Regions from separate parts of the Homo sapiens genome. Here regions 1 and 2 are each linked to region 3. The links come from fine-mapping of genetic effects on gene expression. A gene starts in region 3. Each other region holds a variant in brackets. All regions are shown on one strand. Distances are from middle to middle. Region 1 overlaps PRTFDC1 (phosphoribosyl transferase domain containing 1). Region 2 overlaps PRTFDC1 (phosphoribosyl transferase domain containing 1). Region 3 holds the start of PRTFDC1 (phosphoribosyl transferase domain containing 1).

What was found.
Region 1: its variant is fine-mapped to the expression of PRTFDC1 in spinal cord (GTEx, PIP above 0.99). The same link has a PIP of 0.9 or more in hippocampus and putamen.
Region 2: its variant is fine-mapped to the expression of PRTFDC1 in monocytes (Quach 2016, PIP 0.95).

Annotation. Positions count from the first base shown.
Region 1 is chr10:24,848,054-24,856,237 of GRCh38, reverse strand. PRTFDC1 (phosphoribosyl transferase domain containing 1) reads left to right here. Exons shown (of 9, transcript NM_020200.7): 7 at 874-920; 8 at 4,774-4,850; 9 at 6,347-7,624. The coding sequence ends at 6,394. Among named protein-coding and RNA genes, the nearest start is that of PRTFDC1, 100 kb to the left of the region's middle. The variant C/G (reference allele first, on the strand shown) is at 4,756.
Region 2 is chr10:24,917,520-24,925,703 of GRCh38, reverse strand. The region is part of intron 3 of PRTFDC1 (phosphoribosyl transferase domain containing 1); the gene reads left to right. Among named protein-coding and RNA genes, the nearest start is that of PRTFDC1, 31 kb to the left of the region's middle. RefSeq lists a cis regulatory region at 4,167-4,177 and an enhancer at 4,100-4,244. The variant T/C (reference allele first, on the strand shown) is at 3,196.
Region 3 is chr10:24,948,607-24,956,790 of GRCh38, reverse strand. PRTFDC1 (phosphoribosyl transferase domain containing 1) reads left to right here and starts at 4,185. Exons shown (of 9, transcript NM_020200.7): 1 at 4,185-4,263. The coding sequence starts at 4,216. It also overlaps a transcript of THNSL1 not described here. RefSeq lists a silencer at 3,835-4,024.

The DNA.
Region 1 (8,184 bases), 100 kb after region 3:
GAGGGCAGTAGTGTGATCATAACTCACTGCAGCCTCAAACTTCTGGGCTCAAGTGATCCTCCCACCTCAGCCTCCTGAGTAGCTAGGACAGCTACCTTTTTTTTTTTTTTTTTTTTTTTTTTTTGAGACGGAGTCTTGCTCTGTCACCCAGGCTGGAGTGCAGTGGTACAATCTCAGCTCACTGCAACTTCACCCTCCCGGGTTCGAGCAATTCTCTTGCTTCAGACTCCCATGTAGCTGAGACTGCAGACACGTACCACCATGCCCAGCCAATTTTTGTATTTTTAGTAAAGATGGGTTTTCACCATGTTGGCCAGGCTGGTCTCAAACTTATGAGCTCAAGTGATTTGGCCTCCCAAAGTGCTGGAATTACAAGCATGAGCTACTGTGCCTGGCTGACAGCTACCTTTTTAAAAAGTTTTTTTATATTTTATCTGCTTTTTGAGACAGGGTCTCTTTCTGTCACCTAGGCTGGAGTGCAATAGTGCAATCAAGGCTCACTGCAGCCTTCAACTCCTGGGCTACAACAATCCTCCCACCTCAGCCTCCCAAGTAGCTGGGACTACAGGCAGGTGCCACCACACCCAGCTAAATTTTTTAATTTTTTGTAGAGACAGGGGTCTCGCTATGTTGCCCAGACTGGTCTTGAACTCTGGGCTCAAGTGATCCTCCCACCTTGTCCTCCCAAAGCACTGGGATTACAGATGTAAGCACTGTGCCTGACCTGCTGTCTTCTTTTTATCCAGAACCATCTATATAGTGCCACAGTAGCAAAATATGTATTTCAAGTACATCTTTTAATGATGCTTGATTCTATTTACAATTCATAGAGATTTGATTGGGTTCACTAAAGCATGTCTTTTTTAATGGTAGTTTGTTGGTGAAGAGAACATCCAGAAGTGACGGCTTTAGACCTGACTGTAAGTGTTTTTCAGTTTTTTGTTTGTTTGTTTGTTTGTTTTGTGCTTATGGTGTTTCATTTTATGTTTAAGAATCTTTGGTTTCCTATTTGACAGCATTGCATGTGGATTTGAAACTGTGTAGGGCTGATAGTCCCACGGATTCCTCATGATCTCCCCCACCTTGATAGGGAAAACAGAACCCTTCAAAATGAGGGTCTTCAATGTTCTAATTTGCATCTTTCACAGGAACTCTGTTCCGTGCATTGGGTATTTTTATTTGTATGTTTCACACAGCACCTTAACTACAGAGAAGTCAGCTGAAAAGTTTCAGGGAGTAGAGGAAGACCTGATCCCGCTGGACTGACTCAGACACATAGGATCCCCGCCTTGGCCTCTATTCTCACCAGTCAGACAAGGAGAGGTGCTATGGAGGTTTAGAGGGATTCTTATGCCATCATCCGGAACTATTACCAGACAACGCACAATGGTGACCTTTAGCAAGCCTGAATTGTAACGCACAGAAGGGGAAATCTAAGACAGCTCCCCTTCACCTCCAAACCAAAGCTCCGTAACACAGAGAATTAGCAGAGCAGGTATCTCTAGATACCATCTTCACACTTGACTTCAGATGTGTGTTCTCTAGGGCTTCCTCATCTAGGACACTCTCCTCCCTTCTCCCCATAATAAGCCTAGTTCTAACACCAAGAAGGATAAACACGCAGCCTAATTATTTATTATTCTAACACTAGAGGCGATTTTTTTTCACTTGCATAGGCAGACTTCAGCTTGATTTTTATAACTTACATTTGCTCCAAAGCTCCTGGGATAATTTGGCTACAGTTCTCTTCAGCAAGCTGAACAAACATTAGCGAAAGAGAAGTGCAGTATGGATGGGTGACATGCCAGCGACATTTAGCCAGTGACTCTACATTCTGAAAACAAGTTTCATGCCTGTGCTGGATGTGTTAACTCTGGACCATGTCAGTTCTGGGCAGAGAGACCCAATCGCATGTTCTCATCTATTACTATTATCAAAGGTATAATCTGGATGTAGTCAAGGTTGCATGCGGTTACTAAGCAGAAATTGTCTAAGGAAATAGTACAGGATACTCAGTGTATAAATAAGATTTTAACTGAAGTTGAAAAACATTCACTTCAATGACAAATTTCTTATATCACTTATAATAACAGCAATAAAATAATAGCAGCTAACACTAGGAAGAGGTCGTGATGTGCCATGCACTATTCTAAGAGCTATACAGAGATTAGCTCATTTCATCCACACAATAGCTCTCTAAAGGTAGGAGCTGTTGTTGTACCTATTTTACAGATGAGGAAATTGAGCACAGCAAGCTTAAATAGCTTGCCAAAGTCATGTAGCCATGAGTGTCAGGCCAATATTAAGCCCAGGCAATCTGGTTTCAGTCACTGCCCTGACTCTTCCACTACATCTGCAAGTAACATCTGCTATTGCAAATGTAAGTGTAGGAGCTGCCTGCATTTACCAGCTAAGGATAGGTCACTCTGATTCATGATTGTCCTGCTGATCCATCATCCTTTTATTCTATGACATCTCAAGTTTTGGCCTTCTAAATAGGCTTTGGGCTCTCATTTTCCCAGTGTGAGTTGCCCTGCCTAATGGAAGGATTGCATTGCTCCCTATAAAGTCATTATTATAACCCTGGTTACAAACAGGGTTTCTTGGGATTTGCTCATATTATTATTATTATTATTTGAGACGGAATCTGACTCTGTCGCCCAGTGCAGTGGCGTGATCTTGGCTCACTGCAACTTCTGCCTCCCAGGTTCAAGTGATTCTCCTGCCTCAGCCTCCCAAGTAGCTGGGACTACAGGTACCACCACACCTGGCTAATTTTTGTATTTTTAGTAGAGATGGGGTTTCACCATGTTGGCCAGGCTGGTCTTGGACTCCTGACCTCAGGTGATCCACCCACCTAAGCCTCTCAAAGTGCTGGGATTACAGGCGTGAGCCACTGCACCTTACCTTTTTTTTTTCTTTTTGAGATGGGATCTCACTTTGTTGCCTAGGCTGGTCTCAAACTCCTGGCCTCGAATGATCTTCCTGCCTCAGCCTCTTGAATAGCTGGGACTGCAGGTGCGCACCCGGCTTCATATTCTTTTAGCTAGCTCAGAATCTCTGTTCCTTCTTTCTCTCTGGATTTATGAGGCTTTGTACTTTGCGTTCCTTTCTCCTGATTGATTCTTTCTTTTCTCCTCAATGTAACTTCTGACCTCTTCTGCTCTTGCTTCTCCTCTCTTACTCTTTTTTTCAAGAAACTCTGCAGTTTGGAGGAATCAAGCAGGCTTCCTAGCAAGGGACTCCATAATGCAACCCCCTAGAAAATAAGTCCCTCACCTCTAGTACTTATTTTCCTAGCAAGGGACTCCATAATGTAACCCCCTAGAAAATAAGTACCTCCAGTACTTTCTATGAGCATGAACCAGTCGTTTTCTTCTTGTGAAAGCATCGTTGGTCATAGTCACTGTGGAGATGACTTTGCCCAGGCTATAAGCCCACTGGCTGTACCCAAGTACACTTCCATTAAAAGTAAGCAAATAAATCTCTCATCTATAATACTGTAATAAACAAACCTGTAAGATTCCAAAACACTGAAACAAGTTTGAAAATCACTGGACCAGTGCACCTTTATTCTGTTTCAAGACTTCTGAAGAAGGAGAGCTATTGTCTGTTCCTTAAGAATTCTCTCCAATAAGTATTAGCCAGGCGTAGTTTTGCATGCCTGTAGTCCCAGCTACTCAGGAGGCTGAGGTGAGAGGATCTCCTGAGCCTGTGGAGGTAGAGGCTGCCGTGAGCCATGATCACACGCCTGGACAACAGAGTGAGATCCTTTCTCAAAAAATAGCCAGGTTCAGTGGCCCATGCCTGTAATCCCAGCACTTTGGGAGACTGAGGCGGATGGATCACTTGAGGTCAAGAGTTCGAGACTGGCCTGGCCAACATGGTGAAACCCCATCTCTACTAAAACTACAAAAATTAGCCTGGCATGGTGGCACACGTCTGTCTTCCCAGCTACTCGGGAAACTGAGGCAGGAGAATGGCTTGAACCCTGGTGGTGGAGGCTGCAGTAAGCCAAGATCGCGAGACTCGGTCTCAGAAAAAAAAAAAGAATCCTTTCTGACAAAAAATCATCATCTTTTCAATGAATCTTCTTTTGCTTTTCATAAGTACCTTGCACTGTGCTTAAATCCATTTCCTCTCATTCTGCCCTCAGTAGGGAGCTCATTAATATCCTCTGCATCATGAACCCAAAGACCAGCATTAATGCAACCTCCACATTCTCTTCCTCAAGTTGAACAATCCCGTTGCCTTTCATCTTGTGTCCTGGCTTTTGCTTTCCAGCCCTTTAAACAGCCAAGACACTGAGTACAGCGGGAGAATTGCTTTCTAGTTGCTGTGGCCCGCGCACCTGTTCACATAATGCAGCGTCGTAACGCCTTCTGCTTGAACTTTCCTTTGTGTTGTTGAGAGTGTTTCCTTTGGCATCGTATCACTGCATACTGCTTGCTTTAGAACACCAGGGCCACGTGACTCAATTATGCATATTTCTTGTTATGCACCAGGCTTCCTGAGCCCTTTCTCAACTCTGTATGCTAGATCAGTCATTCTTCATTGTAGGTTGGCTTGTTTGCCTTGCCTCCTTCCTCCCGAGTAGTCCTTCGGGTCCAGGTCCCTCTTGGGCTCATCGTGTGCATTTCTCACCATTTCTCACTCCCTCCTGCCTCAATGAAAGGTCCTCAAGTTTGAGTGGCGACAGCAGCATATGGTGACTTGCATTTATATAATCTAAATTTTGTTCCTTTTTTTTTTTCT[C/G]TTTCTCTGTCTGCTAAGATGCTGGATTTGAGATTCCAAACTTATTTGTGGTGGGATATGCCTTAGATTACAATGAATACTTCAGAGATCTGAATGTAAGTCTTGCATGCAAATCCCTAACCGCCCTTTTTATAAGAACTTAACAATTTAAAAAAGTATTGAATGCGTGTTAGTGATGTCTGCTATTGATTGAGTATCTTCTATGTCAGGAGTATGGTGAGCACATTGCATCCATACTCCCAATTAACTCCCACTACTATTCTGCAGGGTAGGTATCAGGATGATAGAGGCAAATTATGATTATCTCTATTTTGTACTAAAGAAATAGGAAGCTAAAAGCAGAACTATGGTTTGACACTGATTCTTCTCCATAGTCATTGACTGTGCCCAACCAACCATAACAATAGCCAATATTCTATACACTGGTTTGTGTCAGTGCTTGAACTCTAGCAGGTTTCAATTACAGTGGCATGCAGCTCATAACTCTTCCCTCTTTGGGGGAAATGATCTCACCACACAGACGTGGACCCCCAGTGTGGACCCCAGCTGTGTGACCCTGACCAACACTGCATGATCTAGAGGTAGACAACTTACCCATAGTGGACCAATCAGTCTCTCTGTCCTGGGAATTAGAAATTTAAACCAAAAGTCACAGAGACTGAGTGTGTTCAGACTTCAACCACTAGGATAGCAGTGCCCCCAGAGAGTATCCATAGCACCATGGGTGAAAGTCTCTGGAGCTGCCCTTGTTCCTGCCTTCTAGTTGCTTCATTGCCCAGCTCATCCTTGGATTCTGAGAGCTACCCCAGTATTCCACCAATAAATTCCCCCTCCCCCCTCTTTAAAGACACAGGGTCTCACTCCACAGTCTCACCTAGGCTAGAGTGCAGTGACGCAATCATAGCTCACTGCAGCCTTGAACTCCCAGGCTCAAGCGATCCTCCCGCCTCAGCCTCCTGAGTAGCTGGGACTACAGGCACACGCCACTATGCCTAGCTAATATTTTTACTTGCTGTAGAGATGGGGTCTTCGTATGCTGTCCAGGCTGGTCTTGAACTCCTGGCTTCAAATCATGCTCCCACCTCAGCCTCCCAAAGTACTGGGATTACAGACAGGGGCCACTGAGCCCATCCAAATCCTCCTTTTTTGCTTACATTAGCCTGGCCCCATTTCTGTTGCTTTCAATCAAAATATTCCTAACCCTTTGCTTGTTGCCCAAAAAGGGTTGAATAAGAGCCCATGTTGTGCTTGCCACTGTTATTTCTCCATTCACCCAAGCAGTTGTCATCTTACCAGTAGGAGACTTCTGTTTCTAGCAGGGCTAAACATACAGCTCCCTCAGCATTTCTGGGTTTTAGGGACCTGGGGAGCCGGATTCAGAATAGGAATCTCCAAACTAAACCACAAAGGACCTTTTGTCAAGCACTTGAATGGGTCTCTTTAGATTTTACCCACACATATAAATACACACATTTCTATTTAAATGATCAATAGCCAATTACAGGATGGCATTCGGTTATTACTGCATCACCTTTTCTGTGTCTCATATTTTGTTAAGAAACTGATGCGTTTAAATCCTTTATTGTTTCAGCACATATGCGTCATCAATGAGCACGGTAAAGAAAAATATCGAGTCTAAAGACATGAATTCTCACCACTAAAGTCCCAGATAGCATCATATTTACGCCTGTACTTGGGAAGCCAGCTGTCAAGTTTGTCCCCCCAGGCATCTTCACTCAGCAGGATATAAAAGAAAAAAATGTTCAAATGAGAGAGCTTTCTTTTCTGAGGTTAATATAAAGAGTATCAAAGGTTCCTAAGGAAAAGAAAGCAGTGCTTTTATTTGACTTGTTCCAAATTAAACACTCCGCCTTGTGACTCAGCAATGCTATCTACCTTCACACTCCTGAGCTCCGCCTTCCTTTGTTTTGATACAGTCATTATATTTGATTAGTATTCCCAGGAATACCCCCACCTAGTTACTCAAATATTTTTCACTTAACTTTTTATACTCTTATTTTGGTAATAAGCTTACAATATTAAGAAGCTGGGGACTTTTTTTTAACTGAAGACTTGAGTCCCCTATACCGGGAATGCAGCTATTAATAGATTCCCATATTTTAAAAGGAGGGAAAGGACAATTTAATATAAATTTCTGTTTGTGCATTTCTGACAGGCCATTATTATCTGCTTTGACAAAGCCTTTCTGAAACGCAGTGTACAATGAATCTTAATGATGTTATGAAACGAGCTTTGCTCGGGGCTCTTGATTGGAGCTTCCGGTATGTGATGACGGTATGTCATGTATGCATGGATGTACTCAACTGTGTTTAATACTCTGAATTTTAATTAGAAAAAAATACAATAGCAGCAAGGCCCTGGTTTCTAAGCTGTATCCTTTTATTCATGTGGGACATGAGCAAATGGCAGAATTAGGGGCGAGTGCTTTCAATGCTCGAAACTAAGCAAGTATAAATTTTTCCTCTTATTTGCATGAAAGGACAAGACACTGTTATGCCCTGTCCTAAATGTGAAGACAGAGGTTGAATTTTTTAAAAAATATCTTTAAAAGACTGATCACAAAATCCAAGGTGCTACAGGAAACAAGCACACTCAAGAAAGTTTTTTTCTGAATAACATTTTTTTCCAATTTCTCCGTTTTATAAGACATTTCCTAATTTATGGGGATTTTAATTGAAAATAAACTTGAGTCCCAATAGAGCTGTTTTTTTCTCACTTCCTACAAAATGCAAATGCAAAATAAATAACTAAGCAGCTTTTGTTTGGTTCTGAACCGTATGTGGCGTATTGTTATTAGGTTCTAGCTTCCTTTAAACTAATAAAGAATAAGAAAACTTGTTATGTTTTATCACTTCTTACTGTTTTTCTTCCGCCTCCATATTTTTTAAATACTTTCAGACATTAACATGTATGTGAGTCAGTAGCTTAAATATACGACTGCATGTATCTATCCTGCGGCTTTATTTTTGTTAACTTGGATTAAATCCAATATATGCACTAGTAGAAGCAAATGATTAAGCTGGGCTAGATCTGCTGCTTTTTTTTTTCCTCAAGCTCGTTTGTGAGAACAAGGAATTTTAGTTGTAAAAGAAGATTTTCCTGCATATCTTTGTTTCGGTCAGAGAAGAAAACAAGCCACACCCAAATATCCCAAGGGATAAGTCTGCAAAAGGAATCTCTTCTAGCTTTGTTTCACAGAAGCATTGGTACCCAAGCTTAGATTTATAATTGTGTCTGACTGACGAATTTCTTGAAATACCAAAATTAACACTCTGAATATAGCTTTTTTTTCACAATGCCATGTTTATGTCAGAGGACCTAGAAAAATCCAGGCACACATTTGGTTTTAAGTGTAAAATTATCCATAAGTATGCAATATGAAAATGTTTTCTTAAAAACGTTGAATTT
Region 2 (8,184 bases), 31 kb after region 3:
GTGTATGTGTTATTAGTATTAATCACAACAGATGCCTGAAGATTTCAGTTGTATTTCACGTTGTCTGCATTTCCTCCGTTTATCATTTGAAAGCTTGCTGGTCCCATGAAACTTAAGCATGCTATGTATATATACAAAAAATATGCTTGTATTAATCTGTTCTCATGCTGCTAATAAATACATAACTGAAACTGGGTAATTTATAAAGGAAAGAGGTTTATTTATTTTTTTAATTATATTTTAAGTTCTAGGGTACATGTGCACAATGTGCAGGTTTGTTACATAGGTATACATGTGCCATGTTGGTTTGCTGCACCCATTGACTCGACATTTACATTAGTTATTTCTCCTAATGCTATCCCTCCGCCAGCCCCCGACACCCCCTCCACAGGCCTCAATGTGTGATGTTCCCCGCCCTGTGTCCATGTGTTCTCATTGTTCAACTCCCACCTATGAGTGAGAACATGCAGTGTTTGGTTTTCTGTCCTTGTGATAGTTTGCTAAAAATGATGGTTTCCAGCCTCATCCATGTCCCTGCAAAGGACATGAACTCATCCTTTTTTATGGCTGCATAGTATTCCATAGTGTATATGTGCCACATTTTCTTAATCCAGTCTATCATTGATGGACATTTGAGTTGGTTCCAAGTCTTTGCTATTGTGAAGAGTGCCACAATAAACATATGTGTGCATGTGTCTTTATAGTAGCATGATTTATAATCCTTTGGGTATATACCCAGTAATGGGATCCCTGGGTCAAAGGTATTTCTAGTTCTAGATCCTTGAGGAATCACCACACTGTCTTCCACAATAGTTGAACTAATTTACACTCCCACCAACAATGTAAAAGTGTTCCTATTTCTCCATATCCTCTCCAGCATCTGTTGTTTCCTGACTTTTTAATGATAGCCATTCTAACTGGAGTGAGATGTTATCTCATTGTGGTTTTGATTTGCATTTCTCTGATGACCAGTGATGATGAGCATTTTTTTTTCATGTGTCTGTTGGCTGCATAAATGTCTTCTTTTGAGAAGTGTCTGTTCATGTCTTTTGCCCACTTTTTGATGGGGTTGTTTTTTCTTGTAAATTTGTTTAAGTTCTTTGTAGATTCTGGATATTAGCCCTTTGTCAGATGGGTAGATTGCAAAATTTTTCTCCCATTCTGTAGGTTGTCTGTTCACTCTGATGATAGTTTCTTTTGCTGTGCAGAAGCTCTTTAGTTTAATTAGATCCCATTTGTCTATTTTGGCTTTTGTTGCTGTTAGTCTGATGGGCTTCCCTTTGTGGGTAACCCAACCTTTCTCTCTGGCTGCCCTTAACATTTTTTCCTTCATTTCAACCTTGATGAATCTGACAATTATGTGTCTTGGGGTTGCTCTTCTCGAGGAGTATCTTTGTGGTGTTCTCTGTATTTCCTGAATTTGAATGTTGGCCTGCCTTGCTAGGTTGGGGAAGTTCTCCTGGGTAATATCCTGAAGAGTGTTTTCTAACTTGGTTTCATTCTCCCCATCACTTTCAGGTACACCAATCAAACATAGATTTGGTCTTTTCACATAGTCCTATATTTCTTGGAGACTGTGTTCGTTTCTTTTCACTCTTTTTTCTCTAATCTTGTCTTCTCACTTTATTTCATTAATTTGATCTTCAATCACTGATATCGTTTCTTCTACTTGATCGAATCAGCTATTGAAGCTTGTGCATGCGTCACGAAGTTCTCGTACTGTGGTTTTCAGCTCCATCAGGTCATTTAAGTTCTTCTCTACACTGTTTATTCTAGTTAGCCATTTATCTAACCTTTTTTCAAGGTTTTTAGCTTCCTTGCGATGAGTTAGAACATGTTCCTTTAGCTCAGAGAAGTTTGTTATTACCGACCTTCTGAAACCTACTTCTGTCAACTCCTCAAACTCATTCTCTGTCCAGTTTTGTTCCATTGCTGGTGAGGAGCTGCGATCCTTTGGAGGAGAAGAAGAACTCTGGTTTTTGGAATTTTCAGCTTTTCTGCTCTGGTTTCTCCCCGTCTTTGTGGTTTTATCTACCTTTGGTCTTTGATGTTGGTGACCTACAGATGGGGTTTTGGTGTGGATGTCCTTTTTGTTGATGTTGTTGCTATTCCTTTCTGTTTGCTAGTTTTCCTTCTAACAGGCCCCTCAGCTGCGGGTCTGTTTAGTTTGCTGGAGGTCCACTCCAGACCCCGTTTACCTGGGTATCACCAGCGGAGGCTGCAGAACAGCAAATATTGCTGCCTGATCCTTCCTCTGGAAGCTTCATTCCAGAAGGGCACCCACCTGTATGAGGTGTCTGTCGGCCCCTTTTGGGAGTGTCTCCCAGTCAGGCTAAATGGGGGTCAGGGACCCAATTGAGGAGGCAGTCTGTCCGTTCTCAGAGCTCGAATGCTGTGCTGGGAGAACCACTGCTCTCTTCAGAGCTATCAGACGGGGATGTTTAAGTCTGCAGAAGTTGACTGCTGCCTTTTGTTCAGCTATACCCTGCCCACAGAGGTGGAGTCTAGAGAGGCGGTAGGCCTTGCTGAGCTGTGGTGGGCTCTGCCCAGTTTGAGCTTCCCAGCCACTTTGTTTACATACTGAAGCCTCAGCAATGGTGGACGACCCTCCCACTGCCCAGCTACAGCATCACAGGTTGATTTCCGACTGCTGTGCTAGCAGTGAGCAAGGCTCCATGGGCATGGGACTGCTGAGCCAGGCACAGACAGGATGGAATCTCTTTGTCTGCCAGTTGCTAAGACTGTGGGAAAAGTGCAGTATTTGGACAGAAGTGTACGGTTCCTCCAGGTACAGTCTGTCACAGCTTCCCTTGGCTAGGAAAGGGAAATCACCCAACTCCTTGTGCTTCCAGGTGAGGCAATGCCCCACCCCACTTCGGCTTGCCCCCTATGGGCCGCACCCACTGTCCAACCCGTCCCAATAAGATGAACCAGCTACCTCAGTTGGAAATGCAGAAATCACCCATCTTCTGCATCAATCATGCTGGGAGCTGCAGACTGGAGCTGTTCCTATTCAGCCATCTTGGAAGCGACCCAGGAAAGAGGTTTAATGGACTCACAGTTCCATATGGCTGGGGAGGCCTCACAATCATGGCAGAAGGCAAATTAGGGGCAAAATCATATCTTACATGGTGGCAGGCAAGAGGGCATATGCAGGGGAACTCTCCTTTATAAAACCATCAGATCTCATGAGAC[T/C]TATTCACTATCATGAGAACAGCATGGGAAAACCCCACCCCTGTGATTCAATTACTTCCCACAGGGTCCCTCCCATGACACATGGAGATTATTACAATTCAAGGTGAGACTTGTGTAAGCGCACAGAGCCAAACCATATCAATGCGGTAATCAGTTTAACTGATATATACCTGATCTTTTCCAAAAAGGATCTAATGATGTATTTTATTAATTATGCCCAGATAATTTCTCATTTTCTGCAGGAAAATAATTGCAGGCAGCAAAATATTAACAATTATCCTTATTTTATGTTAGGTTATTTTTATCAACATTTTGTAACTGATATAGAATGTAAAATTTAGCATCAAGACCAGGAAAATCTTTTTGAGATTACATATTCCATTTGTATTTTATAAAACACATGAACTTTAAAGTCTAGGAAAGTTACCAGGAAATAATTTGGATTTGGTGGGAAAAAGCAACACAGTTGGATATATAATAAAATGGTTTGGGGAAAATATTTATGGAAAAATAATGCCTTTGACAATTGTTTATGATGCTCATTGTACTATAATAAAGTTTGAGTTTAATGGTTTTATTGTCGTTTTAACCCATAGTGTATATTCCTTTCTTGCATGAGTTTGCCATTATTAAACACAGCATTATTGTTAATCACTCAGGTAATTCAACATGCTTACAATCTGTAGCTTTCAAGGACAAGAATTATTTAATTTTCTACTTATTAATTTGGGATTCATTTGGAGGAGGACAGTTTTGACATTTTTTTGTTTGCCTAGCTTTTTTTTTTTTTTTTTCCTAGAGAACAGAAATGAACTCAAACAGACATTGACAAATAGGAGAATAATGTCATTAAAAACAGGATGACTCTTGGTGAGGAAAAGGGCACAACAGTACGTCAAGGGCCCCCACAGCCCACGCCACAGAGAGGAATGACTAGGCAGGAGTGGAAAGGAAAAGGCCAGCAGTTGGTGATGAGTCAGCAGTACTTTTGCTAAAAATGCTAATCTAATACAGCAGTGGGAAGTGTTGGTTAGCATGTGATCATCGAGGCCTGGAATGACTCCTTCCTCTCTGCAGCTCTCAGGAGTCCCTGTTGAAGGACCGGGATGGGGGCTTTGGTGCCCTATAGACCTCTGTGTGTTGTTTTGGGGTGTGGATCCTCCTCTAATTAGGAAAGATAGCTAGAAGGCAGGCTCAGAAGTCTGCCCCAACTCACACTTCCAAAATTCACATTGGCGTGTGTAAGAGATCTGAGAAATGAAAATGTGTGATATTCTCCCTCATCTTCATATTAAGATAATTTCTTAGGACAAAAATGATTTTTAAACATACCCCTTACTCCAGCGATATCTGAGCCCTGATCACTCAGGAAGTGATAATGACACCTTTGTTTTTTGTTTTTTTGTTTTTTTTTTAATCACTTGTAACCGCTGTGTTGTAGGCAGGGAAATACTTAACCATGAAAGTGACATATTCTTGTTTTATTCCTATACTTAAAGCAAAAGCTACTTACTTTCAGTGTAGGTCAATTTAGATCTGCAAAACAGAATACCATTTTAGATGCTTTGAGGCAGTGTTCCTGTAACAGAATTGTTAGTAATTTTAGAAGATTAGTGAAATATTTTATTTTGAAAACCATTATGGAATTCCATGTTTGTTTCTTTTAATGGATAAATTTAAATATATATCAAATGGATAGATTATTGTAGACTTTTTCAGGGATAGTTATTTTTCCATCAGCAGTACTGTTAGACTACTCTATGCAGAATACATCTACTAGAATGACTTATTTCCTTTTTTGAAAAAAAAATTGAATTTTATTTTAAGTTCCAGGATACATGTGCAGGACGTGCAGGTTTGTTACATAGGTAAATGTGTGCCATGGTGATTTGCTGCATCTATCAACCCATCACCTAGGTATTAAGCCCCACATGTGTTAGCTATTTATCCTGATGCTGTCGCCGCATCTTCCATCCCCAACAGGACCTAGTGTGTGTTGTTCCCCTCCTTGTGTCCATGTGTTCTCATTGTTCAGCTCCCACTTGTAAATGAGAACATGTGGTGCTTGGTTTTCTGTTCCTGCATTAGTTTGCTGACTATAATGGCTTCAAGCTCCACCTATGTTCCTGCAAAGGACATGATCTCCTTCCTTTTGATGGCTGCATAGTATTCCATGGTATATATATATATACACACACATATATATATACACACACACTCATATATATATACACATATATATATAACATTTTATTTATCCAGTCTATCATTGATGGGCATTTGGGTTGATTCCATGTCTTTGCTATTGTGAATAGTGCTTCAGTGAACATAAGTGTGCATGTATCTTTATAATAGAATGATTTATTATATTCCTTTGAGTATATACCCAGCCATGGGATTACTGGGTCAAATGGTATTTCTGATTCTAAGTCTCTGAGGGATTGCCGCACTGTCTTCCATAATGGTTGAACTAATTTACATTCCCACCAACAGGGTAAAAGCTTTCCTATTTCTCCATAGCCTCACCAGCATCTATCGTTTCTTGACTTTTTGATAATCACCATTCTGACTGGCATGAGATGGTATCTCATTGTGGTCTTGATTTGCATTTCTCTAATGATTTGTGATGTTGAGTTTTTTTTCATGTTTGTTGGCCACTTAAATGTCTTCTTTTGAGAAGTGTCTGTTCATGTCCTTTGCCCATTTTTAATGGTTTTTTTTTAATGTAAATTTGTTTAAGTCCCTTGTAGATTCTGGATATTAGCCCTTTGTCAGATGCATAGATTGCAAAAATTTTCTCCCATCTATAAGTTGTCTGTTCACTCTGACAATAGTTTCTTTTGCTGTGTGGAAGCTCTTCAGTTTAATTAGATCCCATTTGTCAATTTGTGCTTTTGTTGCAATTGCTTTTGATGTTTTTGTCATGAAATCTTGGCCCATGCCTATGTCCTGACTGGTATTGCCTAGATTTTCTCCTAGAGTTTTTATAGTTTTGGGTTTTCCATTTAAGTCTTTAATCCATCTGGAGTTAATTTTTGTATAAGATATAAGGAAGGGGTGCAGTTTCAATTTTCTGCACATGGCTAACCAGTTCTCCCAGCACCATTTATTAAACAGGGAGTCCTTTCCCTATTGCTTGTTTTTGTCTGGTTTGTCAAAGATCAGATGGTTGTAGATGTGTGGTCTTATTTCTGAAATCTCTATTCTGTTCCATTGGTCTATGTGTCTGTTTTTGTACTTGTACCATGCTGTTTTGGTTACTATAGCCTTATAGTATATTTTTAAGAGAAAGACTTATTTCTAATATATCCTAAGATATCTTTCTAGTTTATTAGTACCAGGTATAGGATTTTAAAAGTTGAATTTGATTTACTTAAACTAATAATAATATATTGATTGATTACTATTGAAAGTACTATTTTAAGTGCCTTATAAATATTATTTCATTAGTGCCCACCACAACCTGATAAGTAAAGTAATTTATTATCCCCATTTTACATGTAAGGAAAGTGATCCACAGACAGTTTAAGATAGAGCTGGCCGAGAATGGGGCTAAGATGTAAAACTACACAGGCTGATTCAAGAGCATGGAGGCCACAGTCTTTCCACACTGCTTCCCAGAAGGAGGGCCCCATTACCACCGTTCACTTTGGCAAGGAACTCATTTTTATGGGTTTTCCTTTGTTCATTTGTAAAATGATGAGGTTGGATTTCAAGATCTGTAAGGTCCCTGACAGATTTGAAGTTATATTATCTTTAATGTCTTGGAACGTCTATTGAAAAAGGACAGATTGGACCAGGCATAGTGGCTCACACCTGTAACCCTAGAGCTTTGGGAGGCTGAGTGGGGAGGATTGCTTGAGCCCAGGAATTCAAGACCAGCCTGGGCAACATAGTGAGACCTAGTCTCTACAAAAATCTAAAAATTAGCCAGGCATGGTGGTATGCATCTGTAGTCACAGCCCTTGGGAGGCTGAGGCAGGAGGATCCCATGAGCCCAGGAATTCAAGACTGCGGTGAGCTATAATCCTTACTGTACTGTAGCCTGAGCAACAATGTGAAACCCCATTTCTTAAAATAAAAATAAAATAAAATAAAAAAGATATTAACCACACATATTTGATTTGCATTCTCCACTAAAATGACATGGATATATATAATATGATATGATATGATATGATATAGTTAAAAGTGACCTCATATGACAAACTGGACAAGAGAGAAGACAGCAGGTCCAGAGAACATGAATGTAATGGCATGGAGATAAGTTGGACCCAAGTGCCTGCAATGAATGACACCAAAGAAGAACCCAGTTAAATGAGGCCTTGAGAGACTTAGTGCTCCAGCAATGTCAGGGACAGCAGGCAATGAGATGATGTCATTGTGAAGATCATTGGGACTCCCTGGTCCTCCACCCCACTTCCATTGTTGGAAGTCAGGTGACAGCTCTCCTCCCCTCCCACCCAGCCTCATCCCCTTCTACCACTATTGCAGGAAACTGAAGATTAATTTTTCAGAAAAAAATGAACCAAAAAAGTACCAAAAACACGGACACCAGGTAAAACAGAGGCCTGGGGAGATCCAGCTAAACTTTTTATATGAGATTCTGAGACCATCAGCTCTCTTCCTTAGCAGCCGGGCATGTGACCACTCGTAGCCCCCACCAATGAGGCACTGAGGTTTGACAGTGAATGTTCTTTGAGGAAACTGAATGGTTGTAAAGAAAAGACCTCCATCTATTGCATTTGGGACTCCCCCACTGAAAAGGACATCTGTCTCCATGGGAATCCACTAGTAAATCCATCTGTCATCAATCTCTGCCCCCTGATGGACACATAACTCTTTCCCATCAGCTCTTTTGGTGTCTCACTTAGAAGCAAGGAGCACAGTGTCTAGCATGAAACACCAGATGAAACAGAACAAAATAAAACTAAAAAACCCTAAAAAAGGAACCCCAAGAAAATAGAGCGAGAACAGAGAACAGAAGAA
Region 3 (8,184 bases):
GGCCACAGGCTGGTACCAGTTTGCAGCCCGGTAGTTGGGGACACCTGCTGTATGGCACAGCAGAATGATATATTTAACAATAATGTGTTGTATATTTCAAATCAGCTAGAAGAGACAATTTTGAATGTTCTCACCACAAAGAAAAGAAAAATGCTTGAGATGATGAGTATGCTAATTACCCTGAGTTGATCATTATGCAATGTATACATGTAGTGGAATATCACACTGTACCCCATAGATAATATGTATAACTATTATGTGTCAGTTAAAAATAAAACTAAAAAAAAAAGTAAGTAAACACAATATAAACACCAAAAAAAAAAAATAAATAAAATGCAGAGAAACTACTGCTAAAATGTAATAAAGAGAATGATAGAAAAATACAAGTATATTGACTGGTTATTAACTTTGCAAAGATGCACATCTTTATTCTTATAGCTCTTTCAAAGGTATATTAGAAAATGGACAGTCTGACCAGGGCCTACTTGAGGGTGGAGGGCGGGAGGAGGGTAAGGATCAAAAAACTATGTATCAGGTGCTATGGTTATTACCTGGGTGATGAAATAATCTGTACACCTAACCCCTGCGACATGCAATTTTCCCAAACAAACCTGCGTGTGTACCCCCAAACCTCAAATAAAAGTTGGAAAGGAAAAAAAAAGAAAAGGAAATGGACAGTCTGAGCTAAAATATCCCTTTTTATGAAAAATCTCATTATTTTAATAATTTTATCATTTTTCTGTATTCATTCTCATACCAGCTCTAGACTATCCCTGGACTATAACTATCCCTGATTGGTCACCTTACGTCAATCTTTTATTATTATTATTATTATTTGTTTGTAGGGACAGGGTCTTGCTCTGTCACCCAGGCTGGAGTGCAGTGGTGCAATTATGACTCAATGCAGCCTCAAACTTCTGGCCTCAAGCAATCTTTCCAGCTCAGCCTCCCCAGTAGCTAGGTCTACAGGTGCCACGCTACCACACCTGGCTAAGTTTTTAATTTTTTATAGTGATGTGGTCTTACAATGTTACCCAGGTTTGGTCTTGAATTCCTGGCCTCAAGTGAGCCTCCTGCTTTGGCCTCCCGAAGTGCTGGTATTACAGGTGTGAGCCATGGTGCCTAGCCCCATCAACCTTAAAAGACAATTCCTTGTCATTTTCACATGGAATAATTTTACAAACATTTGGTCATACATTTTTACAGCATGTCAGGTTAATAATATCTTACAGTTTTATAGCATTTTGCAAAGAATTCTCTTGCATGTTATCTCACATTCATCTCATCATCATATGCAGTAGAGAATAAATGGGTGGCTCCATTTTATGGATGAGAAAATTGATGTATATTACACTGATATAATTGGCTTAGACTCATTGGCTAAAGTAACATGGATTGTTACAGAAAAATAGAGGTCCTAGTCCAAAGCTATTCCACTAGACATGTGATATGGTTTGGCTCTGTGTCCCCACCCAAATCTCATGTTGAATTGTAATTCCCAGTGTTGGGGGAGGGATCTGGTGGGAGGTGATTGGCTCATGGGGGTGGATTTCTCCCATATTGTTCTCGTTATAGTGAGTGAGTTCTCACAAGATCTGATGGTTTAAAAGTATGTGGCACTACACCCTTGCTCTCTCTCTCTCCTGCTCTGCCATGGTAAGACGTGCTTGCTTCCCCTTTGCCTTCTGCCATGATTGTAAATTTCCTGAGGCCTCCCAGCCTTGCTTTCTGTACAGCCTGCAGAACTGTGAGTCAATTAAACCTCTTTTCTTCATAAATTATCCAGGTCTAAGGTAGTTCTTTATACCAATATGAGAACAGACTAATACAACATGTAACAGAAATTTGAGGTTTAAAAAGAATTTTTGCCTCTAAATCCTCATAATGCAAGATTAAGAATAAAGCCTTGGACAGATGAGCTGTTATTTCTGGATACCGGTCTTTGCAAATACTATTTGGGTTATCAAGTATTATTTTGTATTATGTTAATGCTCTCCAAAGTATCGAAGTGTAATCAGACCGCACAAAGTATTATCAAAATATACAAAGATAATAAAATGAATTAGATTTTTAAAAACTATTTACTCATCATTCTGTGCCCTTTATAGGATGACCTATATAAGTCTATGTAGGATGTTCTTGAGCACACATTCATAAGATTCCTGTTGTCTTTCAAGCAAGTTACATTTTTCACTGTGAACTTGTTGGATTTTACGTTTAAACTAATAGCCTTTCTAAGGGAAGAAGATTTATCTACCATTTCCCTTACATCTTCCGCAGTGTCTAGGCTGGAACCAAAGTTGATGCTTTTTGACTTCTGTATGGCAACTACTCCTGTGACATATTTTGAAGTTCCTGGTACCCCCCAATCTGGCCCTGCACCCACACTGAGCCTCATGGCTAAGTTTTGATATCCAAGCAGTAAGATGGTCTAGTGGAATCCCCTAAAGCATGGGTCATGAGCCACCCACATCACACCCATCTGGTGTCTCTCAGCAGGTACAGGATTCTAGGTGCTTCCACAGATCTTCCCCACCCAGTGAAGCTGCATTAACCAGCTCCCCAGGAGAGTCTTGTGAACTCTAAAGTTTGATCATCATCCTAATGATAGCACTTTTCTGCTCCTGGAAATTTTAATGATGTTGCTTGTGAATATGGTTCCTGGGCCTGGTCTTTGAAAATGAAAATAAAAGATGGTGCTTGACTTTGGGGAAAAGAAGTGAGATGCAGACTACAAAAATGGCTCAAAACAACGCCCTCTCACAATTACTAGGAGAAAATGTTTACCCGTGTGCTGAGAAACAACACCCCCCATTTCTGTAAGGCAGTTGCCAAGCAGATGCCTGATTTCAGGGATCTCTGGAGCTGCACCCTCCAAGGCGCTGGCGCTTAGAAACGACATGAAGAGCCAGCCCTGCTGAGCAGGACCAGGGCGCCAAGTCTGAATGACTAATATTTTTCCAACCTAGAACGTCATTAACCGATTGATAACTATTTCCCCTTTAAACTAGGCAAAATCAGCATTCCTCTCCCCTCTGTGTGCCAGAATTCGAAGATGAACAAAAGACGCCTGCATCAGGAAAACTGTGTTAAGTTCTCTTGGATTCAGGGCTTCGACCCGAATTGGGCTGAGTGAATGAAGACGCTGGTGAGATGTCAGGGACCTGGGGAATGAAGACACACCCAGAAAAAGCAGGAACCTACAGGAGTGGACAAAGAACCGGAGCATAGGCATGTGAGAGGGGTTGAAATGAACAACAGACTCATACAAGAAGGATTTCTAATCAGAAAAGAGCGATTGCTTTAGTAAAGCTGCAACCTGGAACAATTACAATCTGACCAGATGTTCTTGCAAAACTGGTAAAGCAGAGAATGTGTAAAAATCTCTCCCCCTCCTCCCCTGAATGCAGTTGACGAAAGGCCGAAAGGCTGGATCCTCAAAGCCCAGATCTGATCACTGCAGATCCGGGCCACCCTAAAAGCAATCGGGTGTAATCTTTCCAGCTCCAGGCCCTGGGATGAGGGAGGTGGGGGAAGGTGGAGAAAGGTGGAGGAAGATGGAGGGAGGTGAGGGGAGGTGGAGGGAGGTGAGGGGAGGTGGAGGGAGATGAGCGGAGGTGGAGAGAGGTGGGTGGCGGCTCCAAGGTTTGAAAACACATCCAGGACACTTCCCATCCTCCAAGAGCACGCTGGCTCACAGGCTCTTTCACGCTTCTGCTTGGGACAATCGCGTGCATGAAATCTGGCAGGGAGGAGTCAAGGAGATTGTTAGCCCGAGGGCTGGGACGGTGGATCTGGGAATCAGGGGCCTGGGGGACACGTTCTCTTCCTGCCGCGGGCTTCCTGCTCCAGAGTCCCCGCGGGGCTTGGCGGCGGGGCCGGGGGCTGCACGCGACCATCCGGCAGGGGGCGGCGGCGACAGCGGCGGCCGCAAGGGACGCGTCCGGGGCCCGCGCTCAGGGGGAGCGGTAGCGGCTTGGCAGCTGCTCCCCGCGCCCCCGCGGCCTAGCCAGGGGAGGGGGCGCAGCGCCGGGGCCATGGATCCGCGTCAGGCCGCTGCTTCCCGCCGGCGGGCCCGGGGCGGGGCGGACCCGTCCCCGTCCCCGTCCCCGTCCCCGTCCCCGTCCCCATCCCCACGTCCCATCCCCCACGCAGCCTTCGCCCTCCCTGCTCCTTCCCGCGCCGTCTTCCCTTCCCGCGTTCCCCGGGAGAAACATGGCCGGGAGCAGCGAGGAGGCGCCAGACTACGGGCGAGGCGTCGTGGTAAATGCAAACTCCCTATTTTGGGGCTCGGCCCGCTCCCCTCCCTCCCTGGCACCCTGCTTGTAGATTAAATGCTTGCCGTGCGTCGGGGGAGAGAGAGGGCCACCGCTTTGTTCTCCCTCCCGGCGGGGATCGCTTCCATCCTCGGACCCGGGCCTCCTCTCCCCGCCCCCAATCTGACGAAACTCTGAGTCCCGTCCCTTCACCCCGAGTTCCCAGCGTCCCCCCGTGTCCTCCGGCCGGTAGCTCGCTCCTGCAGCGTCCCGCCGGCGCCCAGCCGTCCCCATCCCCGCGAGCCACGGGGAGTCGCTTCTGCGAGCCCGGCAGGGCCCCAGAGACCCCCGCGTGCTGCTCTGGAGGCCTCCTTCTTCCTGGGTCTCCTCTTGACTCCTCCAGGGCGGGCTTCAAGTTTTGTTTTTAAAAAGCACACTGAGGGGTTTTGAAGGCAGCTAGGAAATAAAGTAGCTCAAGTGGACAGAGCTTGAGATTTGAAGCCTTTGGTACCCAGGTTGGGGGCTCTCTGGCAGTGGAGGCCTCTGCAGGAGCTCTAGGACACGCTGGCGGCTCCTGAGTGACCTATGGCTTGTCTGTAAAAGGGAGCAACAGCAAGCTGGGCTCTGGAGCCAATTGGGAGGATGCATGTAAAATATCTAGCAGTGTGTCCGGATGGGAGGGTGTGGGGTGCTGGTTTCCCAGAACTGAGCCTCATTAACCCTGAGAATCCTGACGGTGTCAGCCAGAGGGTACCCATCTCTCAGTGTGCTAGGATCCAACCCGTTCTTGACCTTGTGGCCACGTCCTCCCTGCTCCCTGAGAAGTGGTTTTCCTAGAAGGTGGTGGTTATAACTTGTGTCAGGTTCAGTGTGAAACTCAATGGTGGTGAGGATGGTGGGTGGGGCTAACTTGCCATCTCTTTCCAGGGATCAGCTTGTCATTCACAGATAATCTGTTTATGAATATGAATGGCCTGAACTAAAGTAAGTGGGCTGGGGAGGGAAACGTGTCACATTCAGACAGAAGGGTCAGGTTGAAATGTGGGGCTCAGTGCTTAATTTAACAGCAGGACCTTTCCTTCTGAAAGGATGAGGAGTTGATTTATTCATTCCACACGTTTATTGTCCTGCTGGGTTGTAGGAGGTGCTGTAGGCTCTGGGGTGCAAAAGACAAAGGCCTTGTCTTCATGAGCTTGCGTTCTAGAGAAGACATAGGCAAGCAGTGTGTAAACAAATAGAGAAAATTTCAAATAGAGATATGTGCAATAGGAGGAGGGTAACAGGATAGAGGGTAATTGGAGGAGAAGGGGGGAGTGATGCTTTTGCTCAGGTGGTCAGGGCAGCCTCTCTGCGGTGACCTTTGAGCCAAGATCTGAAGGGTACACAGGAGTAGCCATGTGGACTGCAGGCAGAGACCCGCATACCAAATGCAAAAGAATCATTGTATCCGATTTATGCTTTTACAAAAACCATTCCAGTTGCCCCAGGAGGAGGGGCAAGCCTAGCGGTGTGATGGATGGGAGGGGGACTAAAACGCAAAAAGGGCAATCATTAAGTTCATTCTGGACAAATTGAGTTTGTAGTGCCTGTAAGGCCCACAGGTTGGCCTGCACTGTAGGCAATTTGAAATTCACATTTGGAATTCTGGAGAGTGATTGGAGAGATTTGGAAGTCATCAGCAAAAAGAATAATATGTAATGTTCGGGAGTGCTCAGTGAATATGGAAAAAACAATTAAAGCAACTGTTAAGGATGGAAGCCTGGAAAGTCCCAAATATAAGAGGCTGCCTGTGGGGGAGAAGCTGGTTGAAGGAACCGAGAAAGAACTTTGAAGGGTGGGAGGGCAGGCAGCATGGTGGGTGCCTTGGGAATAGAGCATTGTTGAGCAGGAGGGGCGGGGTCAAGAGGTCATCAGAAGTGTCAGATGTTACAGGGACAGCAAGTCGGATACCAAGATGGAAAACAGCCACTGTATTTAACAATTACAAAGCCATTAGTAGGGAGAATCTTTTAAACAACCACTGCATTGGTAGAATGGTTAAAATATAGTACAAGTTGAGCATCCCTAATCCAAAAATCCAAAATCCGAAATGCTCCAAAATCTGAAACTTTCTGAGCACCAACATGATGCTGAAAGGAGATGCTTACTGGAGCATTTTGGATTTCGGATTTTCAGATTAGGGATGCTCAACCAGGAAGTATAATGCAAATATTCCAAAATCCAAAGGAAAAAAAATCTGAAATTGGAAACGCATCTGATCCCAAGCATTTTGGATAAGGGGTACTCAACTTGTACTACCGTAACATACTACATACTTTTAGAAAAGAATAAGGTGAATCTAGATGCACGGATAGAGTAGGTAAATTGTTGAAGTCTAAAAAACAAGTGAGAGAACACTGTAAATAGCCCAGTCTATTGGTGTCAACAGAGGTCCTCTTGGAAGCAAGGTAATTTTTTGAAAGATGCAAAGAGGTAGTGAGAGGGGTATCAAGAGAGTAGAGGGCCAGGTGAGGTGGCTCATACCTGTAATCCCACCACTTTGGGAGGCCGAGGTGGGTGGATCTCCTGAGGTCAGGAGTTCAATAGAATCCTGACCAACATCGTAAAACCTTGCTGCTACTAAAAATACAAAATTAGCTTGGCATGGTAGTGCATGCCTGTAATCACAGCTACTTGGGAGGCAGAAGCAGGAGAATTGCTTGAATCCGGAAGGTGGAGGTTGCAGCAATCCAAGATTGCACCATTGCACTCCAGGCAACAAGAGTGAAACTCCTTCTTAAAAAAAAAAAAAAAAATAAATAAATAAATAAATAAATAAACAAAAAAAATGAGTATAAACTGGACCAGCTGCCAAGGGGCTTGGTGCTTGCATGAGAGCCCACAAAGGTGGGAAATAATCCACATATAATGGAGATAGTCCCTACATTTACATCCTTTTCTCCAGTAGAACTTGGAATAATTAGATTAACCTCAAGTTGGATATAAGCAGGCAACTTCAGAGCGAATCGAAGCTGCTGGTAGAAGGCAGCTCATGGCATGTAAGGCAGGAGGGAAGGGAGAGCTGGAGAGGATGAGTTTACTGGGAGAATAGAAAGCTCTCAAGGATGGGATACAAAAAATCAAATTAGTACCAGTTTTAAAAAGGGGCAGGTGGCTGGGAGTGGTGGCTCACACCTGTAATCCCAGCACTTTGGGAGGCTGAGAGAGCAAATCACTTGAGCCCAGGAGTTCGAGACCAGCCTGGGCAGCCAACCCTCTCTCTACAAAAAATACAAAACTTAGCCAGGCATGGTGGTGCATGCCTGTAGTCCCAGCTACCGGGGAGGCTGAGGTGGGAGAAGCACCTGAGCCCAGGAAGTCAAGGCTGCAGTGAGCCATGATCGTGCCACTGCATTCCAGCCTGGGTGTCAGAGTGAGACCCCATCTGAAAAAAGGGGCAGAGGGCAGGTAATAATAGCAAGCATTTCTTGAGCACAAATCTGTAAGGGAGGTCTAGTGTGCTCCCCATTTTACAGAAGAGGAAACTGAGGCACTGAGAGATTAAGTAAATCACCCAGGTCGCATAAGTAGCAAATGGCAGAAGCGGGATTTGAACCAGCTTTCAATCACTATACTACATAGCAAGCTGTGATTCCAGGATGGAATTTCAGGGTTGGGGCCATCTGTAGGACTGGTCTGGCTATGTGAATGTATTGCTAAATGGGGAATAAAGATGTGATTTGAGTTAAGAATGTAGTTTGAGCTAAGGCTGGTGAAGGAGCTACAAGATGAAGTCGTTGGAAAGATCGTTGAGGTAGGCATTGGAGTAAATCAGCCAAGGAATTGTCCAGGAATGAGGTAGAGAAGAAAATTCCGAGTTGGTAGAAATCTGTTGATAAAGATGGCAAGGGATGTAGAGTCAGATGATATAAATATAAAACGAGAAGTA